5 separate regions of the Homo sapiens genome follow, and all the other regions are linked to region 3. Evidence: fine-mapped expression QTL. A gene starts in region 3. Each other region holds a variant in brackets. All regions are shown on one strand. Distances are between the middles of the regions.

Region 1 (4,487 bases), 170 kb after region 3:
TGCATTCAAAGACACTGAAATAAATTCTTACCAAAACAGTGGCGAAGACCCAGGATTTGCACTGAAACTCACATGCTGTGTTCAGAAGTGCAGTATTCTCTCTACCCCACACAGCTGCCTTAGAGAGATGAATTCCAGGGCTGGGAACCACGGCTAACACTTAGTACCTCCCACATTTCCAGAAGGGCTCTAAACGTGTCCTGTGGTCCTTACAGTCAACTGGTGAGGTTATTTCTTCTGTCATTTCACAGACAAATAAAGAAGCAGAGTAACTTCATTTATGAACGGTGCTCTCTGCCACTTTGCAATGCTTATTCAATAGAGCTGCTTTCATTATGGAAAGCTAAAAGCTTTGTTTCCCAGAATGCTAACCATTTTATAAACAGTATAACATAATTATAAATGTCTTCCAGAAACACAGTAATAGTAATGTTAAATGATCCTGCGAGCCTCAGAAAAATAACTTGATAGCTACTCTCCGAGGTTGGTTATTTTGGAGTCCTAGTACATTAGTCACTCTTCAAAGGCCAGAGAAGGTAAGAGAGAAGGTTAAAATGAGATCAGATGCCCAGCAGTGGGAAATTTCACATTTGAGATGATGAGACCCATAAATGGGGCATAATGATGGCAAATAAAAAATATCTACTTGGAAACAGAGAAAAGCTCAAATTGCATTGAAGATCAGTTACATTTTTCCTGGACAGAGGACAGAAAAATTTTCTTCTTTTTCTTGAGTAAGTGAAAAGGAATATAAGGTCTTTCTCAGGGATGAGGTTTGCCTTTTCTGGATTAAAGGGTAAAAGCTGAAGAGGCACATCTTCAGACAAGTAGCAATAGAGAACAGAGACAATTCTTGGCCATAGAGCATTTTTGAGGATCTCATATGAAAGATAGTCATTTTTTAAAGATGTCATTTTTCTATAATACTGCAGCTAGCTCCCCTCAGATCATCACCGGGATAAGACAGCATCAATGGATATGTTGCCCAGGCTGGTCTCAAAATCCTGGCCTCAAGCAACCTCCCACCTCAGCCTCCCAAATTGCTGGAATGACAGGTGTGAGCCACCACACCTGGCTGCAAGTTGAATTTCTTTGGATGTCTATTCTTTGTGCCTGAAACTTCAGATTGACGTACTTAGAAAATATAGGGCTGAACTGACCCCCATATAACATCTTGACTTTTTCAACCAAACTTTAATTATTTCAACTGAATAATTTAAAAAAAAATTTTACCCTTGGTGACAGCTGTCAAATGATGGAATATCTTGTGTGAATTAGAATCTCTTGATTTTCAGGAATACCATCATAATAACAATGATGTTGTGATTTTTTTAACTTGAGAATGACCTTTGGAATAATTAAAAAATGCCTTGGTATGACTCAATCCTTTTCCTCCCTCTGTCCTCTGAGGCTTTACCACTGACCTGGAATTCAGGATTCCAGAAATCCTTGGTGAATGAAGTCACCACATTCTTTGTGAAATTATTCACAAGTGTGATCATTATCAGTTATCTGTTTCCTTTGATAAGGTTACTCCCAATTGTTTCAATGTGTGACTCTATAGATAAAATCGTATTATAGTTTTGTTATGATTCATATCGCTAGTATGCTGATAGTCTAGATAATAACAGAGTGATGATATTGTTGTGGCTTCTTTATTCCAAGTAATATCAAGCCCCAATAAAAAAGTTTGGTTTTTCTTTTCTGAGACAGGGTCTGGCTCTGTCACCCAGGCTGGAGGGCAGGGGAGTGATCACAGCTCACTGCACCCTCAAACTCCTGGGCTCAGGTAATCCTCCTGCATCAACCCCCCAAGTATCTGAGACCACAGATGCATGCCATACCAGTCGGCTAATTTTTATTTTATTTTTATTTTTCGTAGAGATGGAGCTTCACATGGTTGCCCAGGCTGCTGTAGAACTTCTGGCCTCAAAAGATCTTCCTGCCTCAGTCTCCCAAAGTGCTAGGATTAAAGGTGTGAGCCACTGCACTTGGCCAATAAAAGTTTTGAAGATGTGAATAGGAAATTCACCAGGAGCTTCCTGTTCACCTCCTTGCTTCAAGTTTATGGAAGTCTTGACTTATCCTTGTCCTTGTCACCAACAAGCCTTGTAGCCGCAGCCTCTGCTCAGGGGGACAGTGTTCCCACCCTCTTCACCAGTGAAGCTGCTGAGATCCCAGGGCAGCTGGCTCCTTCCCATGGAAAGATGAACTATGATTCCTCATTTCCCCAATAAATTTACGATTTTGCTGAGAAAACAAATATACATATTTGAGAAATTTAACAGTGCAAGCAGATAGAATATCAGACATCAAAATCTGTATGAAATTTCTCCACCTCGGAGAATGACTGAGTTTTGGCTTCACTCACACTAAATAATGAAAAAAGGGAACAAGCAGTGTAGGTTTCACTCAGG[A/G]TGAAAGCCCTGGAACCCTAGAAGATTGTGGGGATAGGTAATGGATGGATTCAACATGCCTTTCTCTTAGGACTGTCTGAGATCTTACAGCTGAGATTAGCATAAACATCTTTGAAAGACAAATTCTGGTTGTTAGAGAAAACTATGTCATTATTCAGAGGGGACTGTCAGGCACCTCTTTGCTGAAGAGGCCACACAACACAGAGTGGGGGATGCCTCTTGCTAAATAATGTTTCAGCCACATGTGGCAAAGAGTTCAGAGACCTGAGGGAGGTCCAGTGCAGACTGAACTACAAACTTCAGCCTTCACTGTCTTAAGAATAAGTTAGTCTGGGCTGGGCACAGTGGCTCACACCTGTAATCCCAGCATTTAGGGAGACCAAGGTGGACGGATCACCTGAGGTCAGGAGTTCGAGGCCAGCCTGGGCAACATGGTGAAACCCTGTCTCTACTAAAAATACAAAAATTAGCCAGGTGTGGTGGCACACCCCTGTAATCCCAGCTACTTGGGAGGCTGAGGCAGGAGAATCACTTGAACCTGGGAGATGGAGGTTGCAGTGAGCCGAGATCCCGCCACTGCACTCCAGCCTGTGCCATGGAGCAAGACTTCGTCTCAGAAAAAAAAAAAAGAATAAGTTAGCCTTGGCCGGGCTCGGTGACTCTTGCCTGTAATCCCAGAACTTTGGGAGGCCAAGATGGGTGGATTGCTTGAGCTCAGGATCTTGAGACCAGCCTGAGCAATATGGGGAGACTCCGCCTCTACCAAAAAAAAAAAAAAAAAAAAAAATTAGCTGGGCATGGTGACACATGCCTGTAGTCCCAGTTACTCAGGAGGCTGAGGTAGGAGGATCACTTGAGCCCAGGAGGTCAAGCCTGCAGTGAGTTGTGTTCATGCCACTGCGCTCCCGCCTAAGTGACAGACTGAGACTCTGTCTCAGAAACAAAACCAAAAAAAAGGTGGGGGACACTTGCATGGCAGCTCATGCCTGTAATCCCAGCACTTTGGGAGGCCAAGGTGGGCAGATCACTTGAGCTCATGAGTTTAAGACCAGCCTGGGCAATACAGGGAAACCCTATCTCCAAAAAAAAAAATGCAAAAATGACTTGGGTGTGGTGACCCACAGCTGCAGTCCCAGCAACTCAGGAGGCTAAGGTGGGAGGATCGCTTCAGCCTGGGAGGTGGAGGCTGCAGTGAGCTGAGATCGCACCACTGCACTCCAGCCTGGGTGACAGAGTGAGATCCTGTCTCAGAAGGTTAGTCTTAAGAATCCTTTGAATGGATCAGAAAGGGAGAGCCCTTCTCCAGAATTGGATACCGGTGTAACAGGGTGTCAGTGTGCGGAATTTACAAAGAGAATGCCTGGAAACCGGCCCCACAATGCTTAGTCCACTTTAAAAAGGGTCATGAGAGACAGTGAGAGCATTTTGGAGGATTTCTTTGGACAAAGCAGTGCTGATAACTCCAGGCACCCTCCCACCCTCTGACCCTATCCCTGCTTTACTCCCAAGCCCAGGGTTAGGGGAGGGGGCAGAAACTTCTGCGAGCAAAGAGGCTAAAGCTACAGGAGGGAGAGAGAAGTGCTGACCACAACTCTCCCTCTGACCACATGTTCTCCATTATTGCCATCCCCTCCCACCCCAGCAAAGTAAAGATTGAATGCCAAAGCAAACTAATTCAATACATTAATTCAAATGTTCAGTCCTCTGCACCACAACTGCAGCTCAGGAGCATGGCTTCACAATGCGCCTTCCAAGTTGCAGCAGGGATTCTGCAGGATCCTGACTCAAGGTACACATGAAAGCCAGGTGCGGAGGCTCATGCCTCTAATCCCAGCACTCTGGAAGGCTGAGGTGGGTGTATGGCTCCAGCCCAGGAGTTTGAAACCAGCCTGGGCGTTATGGCGAAACCCTGTCTCTACCAAAAATACAAAAATTATCCAGGTGTGTTGGTGCATGCCCATAGTCCTAACTATGGAGGACTGAGGTAAGAGGATGGCTTGAGCCTTGGGAGGCAGAGGTTGCAGTGAGCTGCCACCATGCCCAGCTAATTTTTTGTATTTTTAGTAGAGA
Region 2 (4,992 bases), 210 kb after region 3:
AAGTTCTTCTTTGGGCACTATGTTGTTGTATCTGACTTCATATGTCTGTTGTTGAAATTGAGTTGGGAACTTCCCCTTTGTCAGCTGTGTGGTATCAGTGGGAAAATGCAGAAACATTATGACTTGCAATAAGTTTTTCTTATGGAAAATTTAGGGATAACTCAAAGCTGCCCTTTCTGAAATTTGATCTGTTATCAACTGTATAAATCTAAATGGAAAAATAGATTAACGACAGTCTTTGCCTGAGGGACCTCCTCAAATCAAGAACTACTGTTTGAAATGATCAAGTGTCTGCTAAGACTTGCATCTGAATGGGTGATGTCACCCTTTGGCCCAGAACAAATTTTTTCCAGGGTTGTCTAAATATAGGACACATACTTTGCCATCTTTGTTTGTTAGTGCAAATGTACGTTATACATCTATACTAGTTAAAATCACTTTATTTTAACAGAACCAAGTTCTACTCCAAGTTCAAGAAATTGATTGTTGTTTTCTTTGAAAACATGTTAATGACGTTTTAAAAATACGCTTATTCAAAAATCAAACAATAGGGCCAGGTGTGGTGGCTCATGCCTGTCATCCCAGTGCTTTGGGAAGCCAAGGTGGAGGATCGCTTGAGGCCAAGAATTCAAGATCAACCTGGGGAACATAGCAAGACCCTATCTCGATGAAATAAAAAATGAGCTAGACATGGTGGTGCATGCGTATAGTTCCAGCTACTTGGGAGGCTGAGATGGGAGAATTGCTTCAGCCCAGAGAGCTGTGATCGCACTACTGTACTCCAGCCTGGGCAACAGAATGAGACTCTGTCTAAAAATATACATATATATATATCTCTCTCTTATATGTATATATTTATATATATCACATATATAAATATCAAAAGATATCAAATATATAGATATATAAATATCAAATATATAGAGATATATAAATATCAAATACAGATATATAATATCAAATACATAGAGATATATAAATCAAATATATATATAAATAAAATATATATATATATCAAACAATAAGGTATATAAGGTAGAGTGAAAGCCCCTGGTCACCTTATTTCCCAGAGCTGTCACCACTGATAGTTTAATGAACTCACTTTTTAATATGTGTGTGTGTTTAACATCGCTGGGATCTTACTGTACCTGGGTGCATTTGTTACCATGTATGTTTCGCTGACTCTTATTGTTGTGTGCTGGAACTTTCTGGGGTGATAGTAATCCAGTTGGGCAGTCATCAACACATGGAGCACTTGCATGTGACAAGTGTGACTGAGCTGAATGTTTTTATTTTATTTGAATTAATTTAAATTTAAATAGCTCCATGTGACTAGTGGCTATCATACTGGACAGCTCAGATCATATTCAGTCTTTGAATTTTGTTTATAAGCTTTCTTGGTACTCAAAAATTTCTGTATTTTATTTCCTGTCTTTGGTAGAATATGTCTAGTTTTCATTCTTTTTTTCTTCTGTGGATTATCTGTACACTTTTTTTTTTTTTTTTTTTTTGAGACAAGGTCTCACTCTGTCATCTGGGCTGGAGTGCAGTGGCACAATCTCAGCTCACTACAGCCTTGACCTCCTGGACTCAAGTGATCCTCCCACCTCAGCCTCTCAAGTAGCTAGGACTACAGGCACATGCCACCACACCTGGCTAATTTTTGTATTTTTGTAGAGACAGGGTCTCACTATGTTGTCTAGGCTGGTCTCGAACTCCTGAACTCAAGCAGTTCACCCACCTCCGTCTCCCAAAGTGTTGGGACTACAGGCGTGAGCCACCGTGCCCGGCGATCTGTACATTTTGAACAAGTATGTTTTCATCTATATTTCTTTATCCATATCAAAAAATTAACCACTATTTAAAATATTCTACCATCTCACAAGAAAAATCATGTAGGATATTTTGACTTCTTTTCATTTCCTAGGTTTAATTGAAATAACCTGGAATTGTAATTCTTTTATTTTTGCCCTTGTGTCACTAGAGACTTTTTTCTTAACTATTACATGTTTCACATTCCTGTTAACAAAAACATTTTAGACTTTCCTGACAGCTTTATTGTTTTTATGGGTTTCCATCGTTCTTTATAAAACACATCCTCCCGGCCAGGCGTGGTGGCTCGCACCTGTAATCCCAGCACTTTGGGAGGCCGGGGTGGGCGGATCACCTGAGGTCAGGAGTTCGAGACCAGCCTGGACAACATGGTGAAACCCCATCTCTACTAAAAATACAAAAAAACATTAGCCAGGTGTGGTGGCGGGCGTATGTAATCTCAGCTACTCGGGAGGCTGAGGCAGGCAGGAGAATCACTTGAACCCAGGAGGTGGAGGTTGCAGTGAGTCGAGATTGCACCATTGCACTCCAGCCTGGGCGACAGAGCAAGACTCTGTCTCAAAAAAATAAAAGTAAAAAATAAAACACATCCTGTCTTTTTCTTCTTTAACAGCATTCTCACATGATTTTTTTTCTTAGAGTGCGTGGATGAT[G/A]TATTTTGAGTTCTTGCATGTCTGAAAATGCCATTCTTTTCCCCTCCCACATAATACATAGCCTGGGTGTGCATGTGACTCTATGATAACAATCGTTTTCCTTGAAACTCCATAAACGTTTTAATATCTTCCAGTATTTACTGGTACAGATGTTGTTTTCTTTGTGTTTTTTTTTTTTTTTTTTTTTTTTTTTTTGATTTTTGAGGCAGAGTCTCGCTCTGTCACCCAGGCCAGGCTGGTCTCGAACTCCTGACCTTGACCTCAGGTGATCCACCTGACTCGGTTCCCCAAAGTGCTGGGACTACAGGTGTGAGCCACTGTGCCTGGCCAGATGCTGTTTTCTCTGCTTCTCTGTCTTTTATAGGTAATCTTATTCTTTTTGTCTGTTTTAACTTGTTTTCAGTCTAGAAGCTTCTGGCATTTTTTCCCTGTTGTTCTATTACCAAAGGGTTTCCATGTCCTTTCACATGCTGGGATCGCCTGTCCTTTATTTTTTATTTTTTGCAATGGAGTCTTACTCTGTTGCCCAGGCTGGAGTGCAGTGTCGTCATCTTTGCTCACTGCAACGTCCACCTCCCAGGTTCAAGCGATTCTCCTGCCTCAGCCTCCCAAGTAGGCAGGATTATAGACGCACACTACCATGCCTAGCTAATTTTTGTATTTTTAGTAGAGACGGGGTTTCACCACGTTGGCCGGCTGGTCTCGAACTCCTGACCTCAAGGAATCTCCCCACCTCAGCCTCCCAAAGTGCTGGGATTACAGGTGTGAGCCACTGCACCTGGCACCTTTCCTTTACTATCTAAACAAAATGGCCTGAGCTGATACATGTTCATGGGGGTTTCTTGGGGTCTTAAGTTTTCATGGTCCTCAGGCACACCCACACTGCAGCCAACTTGCCCCATCACCGGGCTCCTTGTGCCTGTGTGTCCTTAGGGTGCTCTTTTTCTTCAACATTTGACCTTGGGTGGAACACGGTTATCTTCAGTTCTGTGTCTCTCACCACCCTCCTCCCAGGAATCACTAAAATCCAGCTATTGTGCACAGCATTTGCTGAAGCGTTTGTGGCTAATGGGGAGGGAGGGAGGTCTGATTACAGAGTAGCGCAGAAAACAACTTTGAATTCAGTGTCAGACATCATTGTTCACCAAGAGGAATTTGTTACTGCTCACGCCTTTCTGTGGGTCATGGCTTCCTCTGCTTCTGAGAGTGTCTCCTGATCTTTCTTCTCCTCTTCTCTAAGTTCAAGGTCAGCCCAAATGTCCTTTCTTTCATGAAGCCTTCCGCAGCCACTATGACCAAAGGCGCTGACCCCTGCCGGAAGCCCTGTAGCTCTTAGTGAGTGTATCTTTCCCGTGACATCTTTCCCAGTTGCTCTCACCTCATCTCCCCAGCCCTCTGCTCGGGAAGACCCTCATTCTCCTGCCCCAAGCTGTGGCTCCTAGAGGTGAGTTCCTTGTCCACAATCACAAATGGGAGATGTGGGTCTTTGCGTCTGTTGCTTAATGTGTGTGTAGCATCTACCAACCAGCTAGAGTAAAAGGTTTTATTTTGCTGGGCGCAGTGGCTCACGCCTGTAATCCCAGCACTTTGGGAGGCCGAGGCGGGTGGATCACCTGAGGTCAGTAGTTCGAGAGCAGCCTGGGCTACATGGTGAAACCCCATCTCTACTGAAAATACAAAAATCAGTCTGGCACGATGGCGGGCACCTGTAATCCCAGCTAATCGGGAGGCTGAGGCAGAATTGCTTGAACCCGAGAGATGGAGATCACTTTATAAGCACATACTGCAGTGAGCCGAGATTGTGCCACTGTACTCCAGTGAGCCTGGGCGACAGTGAGACTCTGTCTCAATAAATAAATAAATAAATAAATAAATAAATATTTTAAGGAGGTTTTATTTAAATATACAATAGGTTATCTGAAAATAAAGTATGGCTGGACTTTATTAGAATTAAACATTATAGAAAGTCAAGTACCCAAGGTCCATCTGTCTTTCTAACCTCTCTCCCTTTCTGTCTCAGTCTCTGTCAACTAGACTGCCCCAAGCATCTGTTCCTTAGTTCAGATTCTCCAGAAAGGATCTCACTGGTTTCTGGCCAAGAAAGGGATTATCCAGGCATGATCCAGTCCACTGTGATGGAGAAGGGAAAGGGAGGGGTAGAAGAGAATTGTGTGGTACAACATGGCCACTGAGGGCCACACCTTTGGTGAGACCTGTGGGCAAAGGGAGTTTTCAGGGAAGGACATAGTGAACAATGCTGGCACCTTGCTGGGACTGAATTGTATCTCCCTGCCAATTCATATGTTGAAGCCTAAATCCCCAACGTGATGGTGTCTGGAGGTGGCACCTTTGGGGGGTAAATAGCTTACAAGGGTGGAGTCCCCATGAATCGGATCAGTGTATGCTTATAAAGAGATAGAGTCCAGTGCTTTGTTGCTCTGCCAAGAATAAGGCCCTCACCAAAAACCTGACCCTGCTGGCACCCTGATCTTGGTGGACTTCCAGC
Region 3 (4,992 bases):
GATTCAGTTTATTAAGATTTCTTCCACCCTGAAACATTCTGGAACTCTATACTAAGATCACAAACACCAGTGTTTTGAGTGAACAATAAGACTTAGAAAAATGGCATAGAATGGGATTTTTTTTCTATTTTAAATATTTCCATCTGAAATAATTATAGACTCATAAAAAGTTACAAAAATAGTACAGAGAGGTCACATCTATCCTTCTCCCAGCTTCCCCCAATTGTAACATCTTATATAACTGTAGTACACTGTCAATGCCAGGAAATGAACATTGGCACCATAGTATTCACTAGATTTGCACTTCACTGGGATTAGAGCAGGTTCAAACAATTTGGACACTCCTGGAGGTAATTTGAATCATTTGCATAAAATTTATTCTCAGAAGTAACATGGTATAGGGAATTTACACTTATCAGATCTTTGTATTGTGGGCAAGTTGTTTAATGGCACCAAGCCTCGGTTTGTTCATCTGTGAAATGGAAACAATGATACCTACCAAATAAGTTGTTATGAGGAAATAGCTCCAGTTCAGTGAGTGCCATATATTAGGAACTTTGATGCCATATATTAGGCTTAGATGCAGGAATCAGAAGAAGGAGGGAATCCAGCAGTCCCTATTTCTTTCTGCCTTCCTGACTACCTGCCACCCTGTGCAGGTGCGTGATTTGCGCAAATTGCAGCATTGGTCCTAAGGGTGACTATAAAACCCATATGGGCTTCTGTACGTCCTAGTTTTTCTCATGTCTCACAGTCATTTGTCTTTTATAAGCCAACTGGGCAAGTGCCATCCTTCATTCTTTTTTTGGTACGGTGCCTGCCATGTCTAAATGCTCAATTAATGAAATTACAGTAATAACCCTCCTTCTGGCCTGGTGTTCTGGAAGCAGTGTGGGGTGGATGATGGGTCTGGAGTGGATTTTCCTAGGTCCCCAGTGGAAGTCGGAAGGTCACCGCAGTGCTAGTTGGAAGAGAAGGTGGAGAGGGACAAGTGGAGGTGAAGGTTGTGTGGAAGGCATACCGACAGGAGTGGGTTGAGAGAAAGAAAAGTTGAGGTTGGAATGGAGGGGGTCCCTAGGCTCAAGGAAAGTCTAGAGGTTTGGTTTTGTTTTGTGTGTGGTTTTTTTGGTGGTTTTATTTTTTGATTTTTTTTTTTTTTTTTTTTTGAGACGGGGTCTCAGTCTGTCATCCAGGCTGGAGTGCAGTGGCACGATCTTGGCTCACTGCAACCTCCCCACTCCCAGGTTCAAGCGATCCTCCCACCTCAGCCTCCTGAGTAGTTGGGACCACAGGCATGGGCCACTATGCCTGGTTAATTTTTTTGTATTTTTGGTAGAGACAGGGTTTCACCATGTTGGCCCAGCTGGTCTCTTAACTCCTGAACTCAGGCCATCCACCTACCTCAGCCTCCCAAAGTGTTGGGATTATAGGCATGAACCATCACACCCAGCCAAGTCTGGAGGTTTTTGTGAAGAGTTTCAATTTTGGGGTCAGACTGACTGTTTTATTAGAATTTTGGCTCTGCCACTGACCAGGTATGCACTTTTGGACAAATTCCTTAACCCTCTTTAGCCTCTTTTCTCATCTGTGAATGGGGGGGATAATGCTAACTACCTCTTAGATCATGTATTGTGAAGATGGACAAAGAGTCTCTGCTTGACCGAACTACAGTCAGGCTCCGGAACCTTCTTCTAGGCTCAGTTGTGCCCTTCCTTGTAAAATCTGCTTTCAGGAAGAACCCTGCTAAGTCAGTTTACCAAGAACCCTCCACCCTGGATATCTGATCAGCTTCCCCATCCGCCCTGTCCTGCCCAGCCCTGCCAGGGGATGTCTGACTTTCAAGAATCCCCCTTCCCCCTGATGTTTCCTCTTATAATTTTTCATTCCCTGCATCCCACCCTGGTCCTCGGTTATAAATCCCCACTTGTTCCTGCTGTATTCAGAGTTGAACCCAACCTTTCTCCCCGACTGCAGAATCCCATGGTAGGGCTTATACCTATTGCGATGGTTCCAAAGAGGGTCTTCTTTGCTGTGCTTTCACACGTGTCATGGAATAGTCTTTTTTCTTTAATAGGACAGAAAGTTTTAAAGCACCTAGGGCCTCAAAAGATGTGGATTTCCTCCCCACCCTAACCCCTAGAACCATCCAAGTACCATTCCTCCTGAAGCTGTCCACCCGCCAACACGTAGGTACTGCAGGCCTACTGCAGTCTATACTGGCTTGGGGAGTGTTTTTGCGGATCTTTAACACTGGGTGTGAAATCTACGTTGGGGGACACAACTACATTAGGATGGCACCTGGTGGGGGGGTCACACCCAGATACAATGTCTCCTGCGGCCCCTTGGGTGACCTGGTGTGATGAAAAGGGCTCCGCCCTGAAAGGCAGGTCTGGCTCTTCTGCGGGGCTGCGGGGATGGGGCGCGCCGGGGCAGTGTCGCCGGGGGTCGGGCTGGGGGCGCGACGCAGCGGCGCCGGGCGGGGGCGCCCTCGGCGCCGCAGCCGCCAGGTGGCACCACGGGCCCGGGGCCTGGGCGCGGGCAGCGGCGGCGGCGGCGGGCGAGGCAGGAAGGGGTTAAGGAGCTGGCGGAGCAGCAGCAGCCGCCGCCGCCGCCGCCGCCGCGGCTCTTCGGGGAAACCCGGCGCGGGGCGCGGGAGGGAGCGGCCGGGGCGGCGGGGCCGGGCCAATCGGGCGGCGGGCCCGGCGCGCGGAGCCAGCGACATGGAGGGGGGCGCGGCGCCCGGCCGCCCGTGACGCGCCGCCGCCCGGCCCGCTCTCGGCGAGCCCGAGCCGCCGCCGGCCCCGCGGCGGAGATGAGCAGGTCCGCGACGCTGCTGCTGTGCCTGCTGGGCTGCCACGTCTGGAAGGCGGTGACCAAGACGCTGCGGGAGCCCGGCGCCGGAGCCCAAGGTCAGTGGGCGGCGGCGGGGCCGGGGGCTTTGTGTCGCGCCGGGCCTGGCGCGGAGGCGGCGGCGGCGGCGGCGGCGGCGGGAGGGTCCCGGGCCGCGTGGTGGCGACGCAGCCCGAGCCGCATCGGGAGCCTCCGGGCCTGCAGCACCCGCAACGCGCTCCCGAGGGGGCGGCGCGGGCCGGCGACGCGGGGTGACCCGGGCGGAGGCTTCGGGGGCCGGGGATCGGGGGCTGGGTCGGGCGGGGGCGCGGGCAGCTCCAGCTGCTGTCGCCGCTGCGGCGGGGGCTCGTCTGGATGCGCCCGGGGGTCCCCTTTATGCCGCGCCTCGGACACGCGGCTCTGTCTCCCATGTCGCCGCGGACAGAGGGGCCGCCCAGGGCGCGCCGCCCGATCGCGCTCCCGGCTCCCCACGCCGGGCTCGGGTCTGGGAAGTCCCAGCTCCTGGGCTGCGCTGGGGCCTTTTGTTGTGGCGGGAGGGGGTGGCTGACGCCCCGGGGTGCCCCCTGTGTCCCGGGGCCCCGAGGTCCGCTGCCGCCACTAGCCACTAGCCTGCCGCAGTTTGGGAAAGTTTGGGGGGTTCTCTCCCCCTGCCTATCTGACGTCTCTTCCAGACCATAAGGGATTTGCTCAGCGGCCCATGAGTCTTCTCTGTAAGGGAAGAAAGAATTGAACTGGGAGGCCCTCATCGCTCACCAAAAAAAAAAAAAAAAAAAAGAAAAATCCTTTCCAGATCAGTTTGTCGCCAGCTCGTGCCTTTTGTCTCGTCTTTGGCCTCCACAAATCTGCTTTCCAGCCCTGGGAGTAACGTGGTCGCCTCTGAGAATGGCCACGAGCCTGTCTTTTGTTTTTAAAATCAGCGTTTTTTGAGGGGAGTCCCCCACACCCACCCTGAGGCTTGCTTGGCACATTTTTGTGGGGACAGCGTCGAGGACTCCTCTGTTGCTGGCGTTTTCAAAAGGGCCACTGAGGCCCGCAGATGAGCCTCTGCATTCACCCAGGGCACCGCTGCCTGGACTCTTGCCGGGGGCTCAGGTCTCTGCGAGGGAGCTCCCTGCAGCCCTGCAGAACCCCGGGATTCCGAGCCCGAGGCCTGTCCCCTCAGAAGGGTGTGTGTCCTGCAAAGTTGGCCCTGCAGGCCAAAGAAACGAGGAGTGCTGCATCCGAGGGTCTCCTTGCTGGAACCCCCTTTCCTCGGCTAACATGCTCAGGGTGCCTGGGAGCAGAGACGCCCGGGCTTCCACCACGATGTTGCTACGGGGAGGAAAGGCTCTGCCAACACTCTGTTGGGTTGAGTTTGTTGCCTACATGTTGAGTTGAAGGTTTTCATATTCTGGCACTTGCAGTATCATTTCCTGGTATATCTTAAATGCATTGCTGCTTCTATGGCCATGGTAGAATATGACCGTTATGAATTGTGTATAATTTTAGTAATGCATATCATGGAAGAGCGGACAGCTACAAAATACAAAAAGACCTATATGTCTCTTCGTGTAGGAAACGAATGTTTAGGACATTAGATCATCAGTGTTGCATTGCAGCTTCTTTTATTAATACCCTACTGCTTTTTTGAATCAGCTATTTTAGAGAATGATATTTGCACTTCAGCGAGGCCGTTAATTTTAAAGAGCAAGTTGAATTTTTCCTTTTGCACTTGAAATACCAATATATGGAAATATTAAATTCATGCACTTCTGAATTAGAGAAAGGAAGGCATGTCTTCAATATATATATATATATATATTCAATATATATATAACAGGTTTAGGTCTAAGACCACGTTTTACCCAGCTCTTGCTGCTAAAAATCCGCCTCTCAGGAATGGAATATTATGCGAAATGGGAGGGAAATGGTCAACATGAGAAGAGGTTTCTGCCATGGCTAGCAGTGGCTTAGTTTAGGGTATGGTTGGAGTGGGAGATCAAGTATCTTGGCATAGTTTACCCCTTGGATTACTTCCTTTGTTGTTATCTACTGTAAGGATGGCTTTTTAAAGCCTTGAGCCCAGGAACTCTTTCAGAAATCAGGTCTCACTACCTGGCATTTGGATTTTGAGCTAGCAGCATTTTTAAGGGAATGGACAAT
Region 4 (4,992 bases), 120 kb after region 3:
TGTCTGTGTCTGTTTAGTTTCAGCAGAGATGACCGGAGTTAGATAGGACTCTCATGATTTTGGGCACCTGCTCGCTGGGCTCTAAACCTGGGCCTGGATTTCACAGAGTGGAGAACCAGCCCCTGGAGAAGTCTACCTGCTAGTTTTTAAAAGGAAGAGGGAGCATTGTGACTCCCTGCCAGTTAGGCAGTGTGTAGCCAAGACAGGCTGCCCCCGACATAAGTCCTTTGGACCTCAGTGACTTCACCTTTAAGAAGAGAGACTTGGGCTAGTGGATTCTTGGAGCTCTAAAACTCCCTTTTTCTAGAACACGTCTAGACAGGCTTCTTCACTCCTTACAAGTTCTTTGATCCAGAGTTAAAAGGAACCCTGGAGTGGAGATAAAGCCCACCAGCTCCGTGCAGAGCTGTTGAAGCAGGACAGCAGGGGGCCGGGAGAAGGAACCCTCAGCAAAGCACAGGTGGAATGTGGTCTGCCTCAAGCCTGGGGTTGGATCTACAGTTTTTCTCTTAACAATGCTTTTGCCAGGTTTGCACAAAATTACCTAGCACCTTTACGTCTGGTGAATATCACCGCAGCATTAGGTAAAAACCAGTTCAGGTTTTATGATCAAAACAACATCTGGGCCAGGCGCGGTGGCTCACACCTGTAATCCCAACACTTTGGGAGGCTGAGGCGGGTGGATCACCTGAGGTCAGGAGTTCAAGACCAGCCTGGCCAACATGGTGAAACCCTGCCTCTACTAAAAATACAAAAATTAGCTGGGTGTGGTGGCGGGCACCTGTAATCCCAGCTACTTGGGAGACTGAGGCAGGGGAATCGCTTGAACGGGAGGCAGAGGTTGCAGGGAGTTGAGATCACACCGCTGCACTCCAGCCTGGGCGACAAGAGCAAAACTCCATCTCAAAAAAAAAAAAGAAGAAGAAAAGAAAAAGAAAATTTGGAGCAAAGTTAAGCTGCAGAGGACGGCACAACCAACTGTCTAGGGCCTGTCAGCCCAACCTGTCCTCCTACACAAAGGAGTTGAGTTTGGTGAAGAAGCATCATTTTGCATCATTTCAAAAGTCTCATCCTAAATTCTGTGACATAATCCATCACAAGTAGGAAGCACGCCTCCAGAATAGACTGGATGATGACAAATGGCAGCTCCCACAGAAAGAGAAGATTCATTGCCGCTGGGGTATTGTTTGCAATTCTTTTCAAGGTTGCACTGTTAATTCCCTTGCCCTCCTTCAATTTGGTTCATGGCATTAAACCAGATTTTTCCAGGGAGATTAAAGACGGGTTTGCAGCGGTATCAAAGAGTATCTCTTACATTGTTTGAGTAAAGAGATTAATAGTCATCTACTTGTTTCATTTACATGGAGTTTCCCAAAATGCTACCCAGATCCACAGGCAAATGCTGGGCAGTGACAAGACTGCTTGCACATGGAACTTGGAAAAAGCTTTTTGTTAAAAACCTAAATAACATCCTGTGTCAAAACAAATGTGACAATGGGCTATTATTTCTCTCCCCATAATAGCATGTTGTCACATCTCTGTGTCCTGCATGAATGGGGGAAGGGAGGCCTTGTGAGAGGGAGCAGGGTGGGGGAGGCGTGCTGAAACCTTAGAGAGGCACTTCCTGGTTTTGCATTTTCTAAAAACAGAAACTGCTCCTGGGGGAGATAACTCGGAGGTTAATCTCTGCAGGTGCCCGGCCACAGCCTCGCGTTCATTTCCAGAGAAGGGCTCTGAGGTTGCCTGAGAACACCAGCTACAGTGACCTGACCGCGTTTCTCACGGCCGCCAGCTCCCCTTCGGAGGTGGACAGTTTTCCTTATTTGCGAGGATTAGACGGAAATGGAACAGGTAATTGGAGTCTTTTCTCTTTTCAGTGGGAGTTACTGTGTTTTAGTCTTTACATGTGGATTTTAGGTATGATTGGGAGTTTTAGCACTATGTGGGAGAAAGGCACTGAAGGTGCAGAAGGGGAATTCTTGGTACAAGTTCAAGTGCTTTGAAACTGTGTTACGTCGGTACGAGCCCTGCAGAATTACATGTTAGCACATTGGTCTCCTTGAGCTTTTCTTCTGTTACCAGTTGCCTTAAGCACCTTCTCTGAGCTCTCCTTTGGTGGACTAAATATATTCAATTCAGAGAAATTCTTATTGAAATTGCAATTTTTTTAAGTATAAGATTAGACTTAGGGTTTTTGGCCCAGCTGCCCTCTGCCTCGTCCCACGAGCCCCCATTTGAGAGGGTAGCCTGTGGGTGGGTGGGGCTGGTAGAGACTTACCACCCCACCCACCTATGCTGCAGCCAGGAGGGGAAGAGGTGGTGCTTGGTCCAACTCAGAGACAGGCATACCTTGGCTCCATGCCCCACCGGCATGGGGACCACTTAGGATGGGGAGCCTCCGCCCTCTGCCATCTGTGTCCACCCAGCTCTTTCCCACATCGTTTCTTTCTCTGCACTTGCTCTCTCTGTCCTCAACTGGGCATAGAGTGGCCAGGCTTTGAATTTGCTTTAGAATCCGCCCTCTCCTGGCAGGTCTCTAAGTCAGCTGGGTCAGTACCACTATTCTGGCATGCCACAGCTAAAAGATCAGAGAAACTAAAAGCCATCCACCAGAAAATAAGTGATAATTCCTTATCAGAGAAAGACCCAAGACGGGTACCTTCCACCTCTGTTTGTGTCCAACTGCACCATTCTCTGGACCCCTTTGCACTGGAATGGTCCCCACTCCTCCTGGTGGAAGAGGTGTCAGGATTCTGGAGTCCTGAATTATTTTCTTGTCTACCCCACTTTCCTTTCCCCCACACTTTAAACTAATCACAGCATTAAAATTTTAAATCAAAGGCTGTTCTGAGTTGCATTCTGCTAGGAGAGTAACTCACTGCATTTCCCAGGGATACTTGGCTTGAATTTCACTTAATTTTCCAGTGCTTTACATAAACTGATTATTCTGAAAAAGCTTTTAAACCTGAAACATTTGATCC[A/G]TTTTGTAGCATATTAATAAGTTTCTGGTTATACATAAAGGCAACATGGTGATTTGTTACTCATTTTTCTTCTCTCTGTTTTCCAAAACGTTTCTTCTTTAATTTTTGTGTGCTGATGAGGATGTGATTAACTTGTCAGTAAATATGTCAGTACTTGGTCATCAGAAAGATGGCATAGCAGTCATCTTAAGTAAACATTATTAGGAAAAAAAAATGTTGACTATTACTTGAAATGTGCCGGTCTGGGAGAAAAGTCTTGTTTTGGGGAGCATGAAGAAGTGGTTTAAGGCTGGGTGCGGTGGCTCATGCCTGTAATCCCAGCACTTTGGGAGGCCGAGGTGGGTGGATCATTTGAGGTCAGAAGTTTGAGACCAGCCTGGCCAACATGATGAAATGCTGCGTCTACTAAAAATACAAAAATTAGCTGGGTGTGGTGGCAGGTGCCTGTAGTTCTAGCTACTCAGGAAGCTGAGGCAGGAGAATCGCTTGAACCCAGAAGGTGGAGGTTGCAGTGAGCCAAGATCGTGCCACTGCACTCCAGCCTGAGCAACAGATCTAAACTCTGTCTCAAAAAAAAACAAAAAAACAAAGTTTTAAAATATCATAGCCAGCATCCAGCCTCCCGGACAAAATGGTGCACGATCCACAAAACCCTAACTTGGAGGGACAGCCTCCGTGCTCGGGACTCATTAAATTTTTCTGTGCCCCACTTCCAGTAGCTCTTGAATAAATTATGCAGTCTGAGAAAATGGGGGAAAACGAACACTAAGACACAGAACTATTGATTTTAGAGGAGTTTGTCCTATTTTAAGATCATTCCGTGATTTCAAAGGGAAGAGAGGTCTTTGCAATGTGACATGAAATTTCTCTTCCACGGAAAGAATGGATGACTTGACCTAGAAATGACTAGGCTTTCTTGGAGACCTAGCAGCGAAGGCATCCACCCATAGTGAATTCACACGCGCCCTCGGGGACTTGGAACCTGGGCTCCCTTGAGCACAGACACCTCAGTAACTCACCAGCTCCATGGCGGCCCCTGGGGTCAGTTTGCACACAGCTTGTCTTTTGCCCACAGTCACTCATCTCCTGTTTTACTAAAGGCATCTAAGAGCTCACAGCCTAAAGAGAGCACGCCTGGACCAGACGTGTCTTTGGAAGATGACACAAGTTCATCTCCCGAAGACGCAGAAAATGACTAGCGTCATAACCAGAGTTCAGTGAAGGTGGATGGAAACAGAGAGGCTGCGGAAGAGACTGGAAAGGGCTCCGAAAGGCTGTTTTCTGGGGGTACCATGAAGGTTGTGTTGTTTGGTTTAGAGGGTGGATCCAGAGTTGTAAGTAAGTGGAGAAGCATCTTCTCTTTCTAGCTCTTGGGGGCCCCCTCCTCTCACCGGAGAGCATCGCACTCTTCCCCCAGCTGCTGAGAAAGCACAGAATGTTCCGTGGTGTTCCCAAGGGGTTTTTACAAAAATTGCTTTCACTAATAACTCCAGGAAGACAGAGAAGAGTCAATAAAATGACAGGTGCAGACTTTTCCTGCAATTCCAAAAAGTTGGTAGAATACAGAGCCCAACAGAACCTTAGATGTCAGCTGAGCAGAACCTGTCACGTGACGAGTGACCAGGTAGATGGCCCAAGGTGATACAGCTCCTCTCCTCGCTTGGGCCAGTGGTGTTCTGCCCCGCAACACGATCCTGCTGCATTTGCCTGACACCTGCTTGTCTTTGTGCAGACTTAAAGGGAGCCAGGCAACATCCAGATGGAACGGGAAGGATGACCACTTTCTATATAAAACTCAGTATTTTGTGTAAAATTGGAGTTTCATAACAAAGAGAAGGAAAATAGTTTAGCCCTTCAAAATGTGAATTGTTGCAGAATAGGCCAGGCGCGATGGCTCACACCTGTAATCCCAGCACTTTGGGAGGCCGAGGCGGGTGGATCACTGGGAGGGAGGTCAGGAGTTCAAGACCAGCCTGACCAACCTCATCTCTACTAAAAATACAAAAACAAA
Region 5 (4,992 bases), 120 kb after region 3:
ACAGACGGGTATGAATGATAAAAGGTAGGGTGGCATTAGCTGTGTAGAAATTGCTGTATGAAGGATTTAGCTGTAATTCATTGTTGAGACTCTAAAATTCACTAGGTTTTCTTTAAATGTTTAAATGTAGACCAGATTGGAGGTTTACATCAGCTCAGTTTGGTAGGTAGGTAAGTATATAAGTAGCTGAATAAAAAGTCCTATAGATTGTATTTTAATGCAGCTTAAATTTTTTATCGCTGTGTTTTTGTCATTGTGCTCAAAGAAATATGTAAAATTATGACAACACAGTTTGTGCGATATTGTATTTCACTAGAGGAAAATGTAAAATGGATTGCTTGAGTGCATAAATATATCGGTCTCATAAGCATTCTCTAATTTATCTGTAGGCAGTCATTAAAGCTTTGGCTTGGACCAAAGGCCTTTAATGGAAAATAATTGGTATACTGAGGTCCTTTTAAACAGATCAAAATAACAATGGCAATTAAAATAACTCATAAATATTTCAAGTCCAGTCCTCAATAGCATACTTTTTAGCAGAAGTTAATATTTTTGAAGCAATCCTTGAAGAAATTTGCTATGTTAAAAAAAAAGCAGCCTCTGCTCTAAAACATTTGGTTTTATTAAGGTTATCTGCCAAGTAATTAACATGTGCATGGGGCTCACTTTGTGTAAAAGTTATTTCCGGTGATTTCCACTTACACCTTTGTCTCACATTATAGAAAAATCCTTCTCTTTTGAGATCGTTTTTGAAAGCAAAACACAATAATGAAAAATAGCAAGCCTGACCGGGCACAGTGGCTTAAGTCTATAATCCCAGCACAGGCCTGGGATTGCCAAGGCAGGCAGATCACCTGAGGTCAGGAGTTTGAGACCAGCCTGGCCAATATGGCAAAACCCCATCTTCACTAAAAATACAAAAATTATCCATCAGGGTAGTGGAAGCCTGTAATACCGGCTACTTGGGAGGCTGAGGCAGGAGGATCGCTTGAACCCAGGAGGTGGAGGTTACAGTGAGCTGAGATTGTGCCATCGCACTCCAGCCTGGGCAACGGAATGAGACTTCATCTCAAAAAAAAAAAAAAAAGAAAAAAGAAAACCTGAGCCTAGATTCCAGCTCAGCCCATACTGAGTGTATGCCCTTAGGCCACCTACCATTACTACTCTCTCTGAGCCTGTTTCTTTGTGTGTAAAAATGACGATTTTACCTGCCTTACTGGGTTGTGGTGAGGATTATGTATGTAAAGTGCTTCATGCAGTCCCTGGCATATAGGAGGTAATGGTAGCTGCGACTATTTTTTTGCAAAGGTTTCCACAGCCCCACATGGGTACTTTGCATGCAAATGATGGAAAATGCCTCTTCCTTCTAGGAAACAGCACCAGGCATGACCTGACCCCAGTCACAGCCGTCAGCGTCCACTTGCTGAGCAGTAATGGAACGCCGGTGCTGGTGGATGGTCCCATCTATGTCACTGTGCCCCTGGCCACGCAGAGCAGCCTGAGGCACAATGCCTATGTCGCGGCGTGGCGGTTTGACCAGAAGCTGGGTAAGCAAGAGTTCTGTGCCGACAATCGGCTACCAGATGGCTTCGTTACTGTTTGGTTTTCCTTCTAAGAAGCTCATGGAAGTCTCCTTTCCTTGAAGTCAGTGAATGCTGCTGCTCACATTGCATTGTGTGGTTTCTCATGGGGACGGCACCCTTCCCCGTGCCATTCAGACCCTCTCTTGGGAACTCATTTTTTGTTAGTTTTCATATTTGTTTTTGTTTTGCACATTTAACCTAATTTACTTGAAAAGAATCTGTAAAGGTTATTAGAGCTAAAACTGGCTCTCCTAATCTTCATCCTTTTATTCATCAGAAGGTCATATGGTTGCTCTTGGTCATGTGTGGTATTTTTTTTTTCTGTTTTCTGAAAAAGGACAAACATTTGCCAAAACTGTACAAAACAAAGAAAATAAAAATTACCCATAAGTCTCACCACCTAGAGAAAACCACTAATATATCTTGAATTCTGTCCTTCTAGGGCTTTCACAGTGCACGTAGGTATTAGTTATCAACTGCTGTGTAACACCACCCTAAAAGTTAGCTGCTTAAAACAACAGTGAGCTCCAGTATCTCAGAGTTTCTGGGGGTCAGGAATCCAGGTACAGCCGAGCTGGGTGGTAGGGCTCAGAGTCTCTTACAAGGCGGCTGTCAAGCTGTGAGTCAAGGCTGTGGTCCTCTCCAGCAGTGTTCAGCTGGGGCTAATGAGTGTGACTCACAGGGCTGAAGGCAGACCTCACTTCCTTGCCGGCTGTTGACCAGAGGCCTTACCTCCTTACCACGTGGGACCCTCCATAGAGCTGCTTACTACACGGTAGTTTGCTTTCCCCTGAGCAAATGATCCAAGAGTAAATAAAAATGATATAGTAGGCTGGGTGTGGTGGCTGACACCTGTAATCCCAGCACTTTGGGAGGCTGAGGCGGGTGGTTCACTTGAGGCCAAGAGTCTGAGACCAGCCTTTTAAAAGCCCAAGTGCCCAGATTGAGGTCATGGTCTTTTGTAACCTAATCCCAAAAGCAGCATACCATCATTTCTTTCCATTAGGCTGTTGGTCACACAGACCCACACTGGTATAGACCAGCACTGAGAGTAGACTATACAGGGGAGTGAATACCAGGAGGCAGGGGTCACTTGGGGCTGGCTATCTGAGAGG[T/C]TGCCTTCTACAAAGCATATTTAGCAGAAATGAGATCATGTGCTGGGTACTGTTTGGGTGCAGTGGCTCACACCTGAAATCCCAACACTTTGGGAGGCTGAGGCGGGAGGATTGCTTGAGCCCAGGAATTCAAAGTCACAGTGAGTGATGTCGCTATGATCGAGCCACTGCACCTCCTAGGCAACAGAACGAGACCACTCACTCACTCAATCAACCAATAATATATACATAAAAATACATTTGTACAGCATGAACATCTTTCCATAGCATCATTATTCTGCCATGTCAATTTTAATAAGTCCATAGTATTCCACCCTGTGGATATATCATACTTCACTTTGGTTCATCAATCCCCTGCAATTAGAAAAAAATGTTACTATTCTAACCAATGCTGTAGAAAATATCTTTCTAGCTAAATCTTTATGCACAGCCTTGGTTATTTCCTTAGGATGACATTTTAGAAGAATTGCTGAGTTACAAAATGTACAAAATTCTAAAACTTTTAAAACATATTTCCAGATTTCCCTCCAGACAGTTGTATTGGTTTGCACTCATGATACCAGCCCACGAGCATGTGCTCGGGCTGAGGGTCTTGGCAGCGTGGGGCCTCTTACCCCCCTTTGCTTCCTAGTGCCCTGAAAGTCAAGCTTGAAAATATCAATTTGCTGCTGGGCACGGTGGCTCACACCTATAATCCCAGCACTTTGGGAGGCAAGGCGGGCAGATCACTTGTGGTCAGGAGTTTGAGACCAACCTGGCCAACATGGTGAAACCCTATCTCTACTAAAAATACAAAAAATTAGCCAGCTGTGGTGGTACATGTCCATAGTCCCAGCTACTTGGGAGGCTAAGTTGGGAGGATCCCTTGAACCTGGGAGGCAGAGGTTGCAGTGAGCCAAGATCGCATCACTGCACTCCAGCCTGGATGACAGAGCAAGACTGTCTCGAAAAAAGAAAATACCAGTTTTCAAATAAGCCAGTTCAGAATTTAAAACTGTTAGACCATGCATGAAGATAATTGGGAGATTTTTGATATCAGTATATTTTCAAAGATATCTAATTCCTCGAATCAGTTAAAACAGAGTTCTAGGAATTATATTTTAAAAGAAACGCCTGTTGGGCTTTTGGAGGGGATTTTTGTTTTGTCTTATTTTTACTTTCCAAATAATTAATAGAGACACTGTAATTATTTGTGTGGAATGCATTGATTTTACCAGCCACAGTAAACTTGATATTGTTAAGTGGATTGTGATGCTGTCTGTTCACATATCCTGCAGTAAGCAAGACGGGCACTTCATTGATGGTGTGTGTTCTCTGAGAGCCTGATAATCTGTTCACATATCCTGCAGTAAGCGAGACGGGCACTTTATTGATGGTGTGTGTTCTCTGTGAGCCTGATAATTTGGGGGGCATCAAGGTCATGGTGGGGACCTGAGGTACACTGTGCCTCCAGGAGGGAGTAGCCTGAGGGATGTGTGACCAAGAGTCTCTGAAGAATGCCGGAATTCTAAAGGGAGGAAGAAAATGGATAAAGAAAAACACAGAGGAAGTGGGCAAGAGAATGGAAAGAGCTTTGAGTTTGTGTTTTGTTTCCTGAAAACCTGGGTTCTGCTACTTATAAAACTGTGAGTCCCACCTTGGGCAAATTACTTACCTCTATTTGCATTTGTAAGAGATATGAATATACACCCCCTTGTATGGTCTGCCTGTCCCCTGTAGCCCTCCCAGGGGGCGCTGAAGCGCACCCAGGTCAATGCACTGAGAAGCAGCGGAGAGTGTGGTTAAGAGCAGGGAGTCTGGGGGGCACAGTGGTGTGGAATGCCAGCTCTGCCACCCACTGGCTGTGTGGCCCTGGCCAAGTTACTTAGCCTTTCTGATCTAGTTTCTTCCACTGTGAAATGGCAATAATAATAGTACCCACTGTTGTTATAATGAGTGTATTAGGATTCTCTAAAGAAACAGAGCCAATAGGAGATATATGTATATTTGGAGAGATTGATTTTAAGGAATGGCTCACACAATTGGGAAGGCTGGCAAGTCCAAAATTGCAAGGCAGGCTGATGAGATGAGGCCCTCCCTCACTGTGGAGAGTGATCTGCTTCACTCAAAGTCAACAGATTGGGCCGGGCACCATGGCTCATGCCTGTAATACCAGCACTTTGGGAGGCCAAGACAGGCAGATCACCTGAGGTCAAGAGTTTGAGACCAGCCTAGCCAATATGGTGAAACCCCATCTTTACTAAAAATACAAAAAATTAGCTGGGCGTGGTGGTGCATGCCTATAATCCCAGCTA

Which allele goes with the higher level. Positions count from the first base shown, and alleles are read on the strand shown. Sizes are in standard deviations (SD) of each study's normalised expression. Not every link is listed here.
For the expression in NK cells of the gene that starts at base 2,576 in region 3, allele T in region 5 goes with a lower level than allele C (moderate effect, 0.72 SD a copy in Gilchrist 2021).

The links. PIP is the estimated chance that this variant, and not a neighbour inherited with it, causes the effect. A credible set is the group of variants that fine-mapping cannot tell apart.
Region 1: its variant is the best candidate, but not a certain one, in a credible set for the expression of FAM171A1 in whole blood (INTERVAL, PIP 0.79).
Region 2: its variant is the best candidate, but not a certain one, in a credible set for the expression of FAM171A1 in blood mononuclear cells (TOPMed, PIP 0.54).
Region 4: its variant is the best candidate, but not a certain one, in a credible set for the expression of FAM171A1 in blood mononuclear cells (TOPMed, PIP 0.85).
Region 5: its variant is the best candidate, but not a certain one, in a credible set for the expression of FAM171A1 in NK cells (Gilchrist 2021, PIP 0.53).

The regions. Positions count from the first base shown.
Region 1 is chr10:15,197,855-15,202,341 of GRCh38, reverse strand. The region is part of intron 1 of LOC105376434 (a long non-coding RNA gene); the gene reads left to right. Among named protein-coding and RNA genes, the nearest start is that of FAM171A1-AS1, 8.5 kb to the left of the region's middle. RefSeq lists an enhancer at 773-1,972. The variant A/G (reference allele first, on the strand shown) is at 2,418.
Region 2 is chr10:15,158,771-15,163,762 of GRCh38, reverse strand. The region is part of intron 1 of NMT2 (N-myristoyltransferase 2); the gene reads left to right. Among named protein-coding and RNA genes, the nearest start is that of NMT2, 7.4 kb to the left of the region's middle. The variant G/A (reference allele first, on the strand shown) is at 2,487.
Region 3 is chr10:15,368,873-15,373,864 of GRCh38, reverse strand. It overlaps FAM171A1 (family with sequence similarity 171 member A1), which reads left to right and starts at 2,576. Exons shown (of 8, transcript NM_001010924.2): 1 at 2,576-2,909. The coding sequence starts at 2,813. RefSeq lists silencers at 2,530-2,579, 2,590-2,819.
Region 4 is chr10:15,251,580-15,256,571 of GRCh38, reverse strand. It overlaps FAM171A1 (family with sequence similarity 171 member A1), which reads left to right. Exons shown (of 8, transcript NM_001010924.2): 4 at 1,693-1,851. Among named protein-coding and RNA genes, the nearest start is that of FAM171A1-AS1, 45 kb to the right of the region's middle. RefSeq lists an enhancer at 215-858. The variant A/G (reference allele first, on the strand shown) is at 2,982.
Region 5 is chr10:15,245,194-15,250,185 of GRCh38, reverse strand. FAM171A1 (family with sequence similarity 171 member A1) reads left to right here. Exons shown (of 8, transcript NM_001010924.2): 5 at 1,371-1,547. Among named protein-coding and RNA genes, the nearest start is that of FAM171A1-AS1, 39 kb to the right of the region's middle. RefSeq lists an enhancer at 1,455-1,956. The variant T/C (reference allele first, on the strand shown) is at 2,699.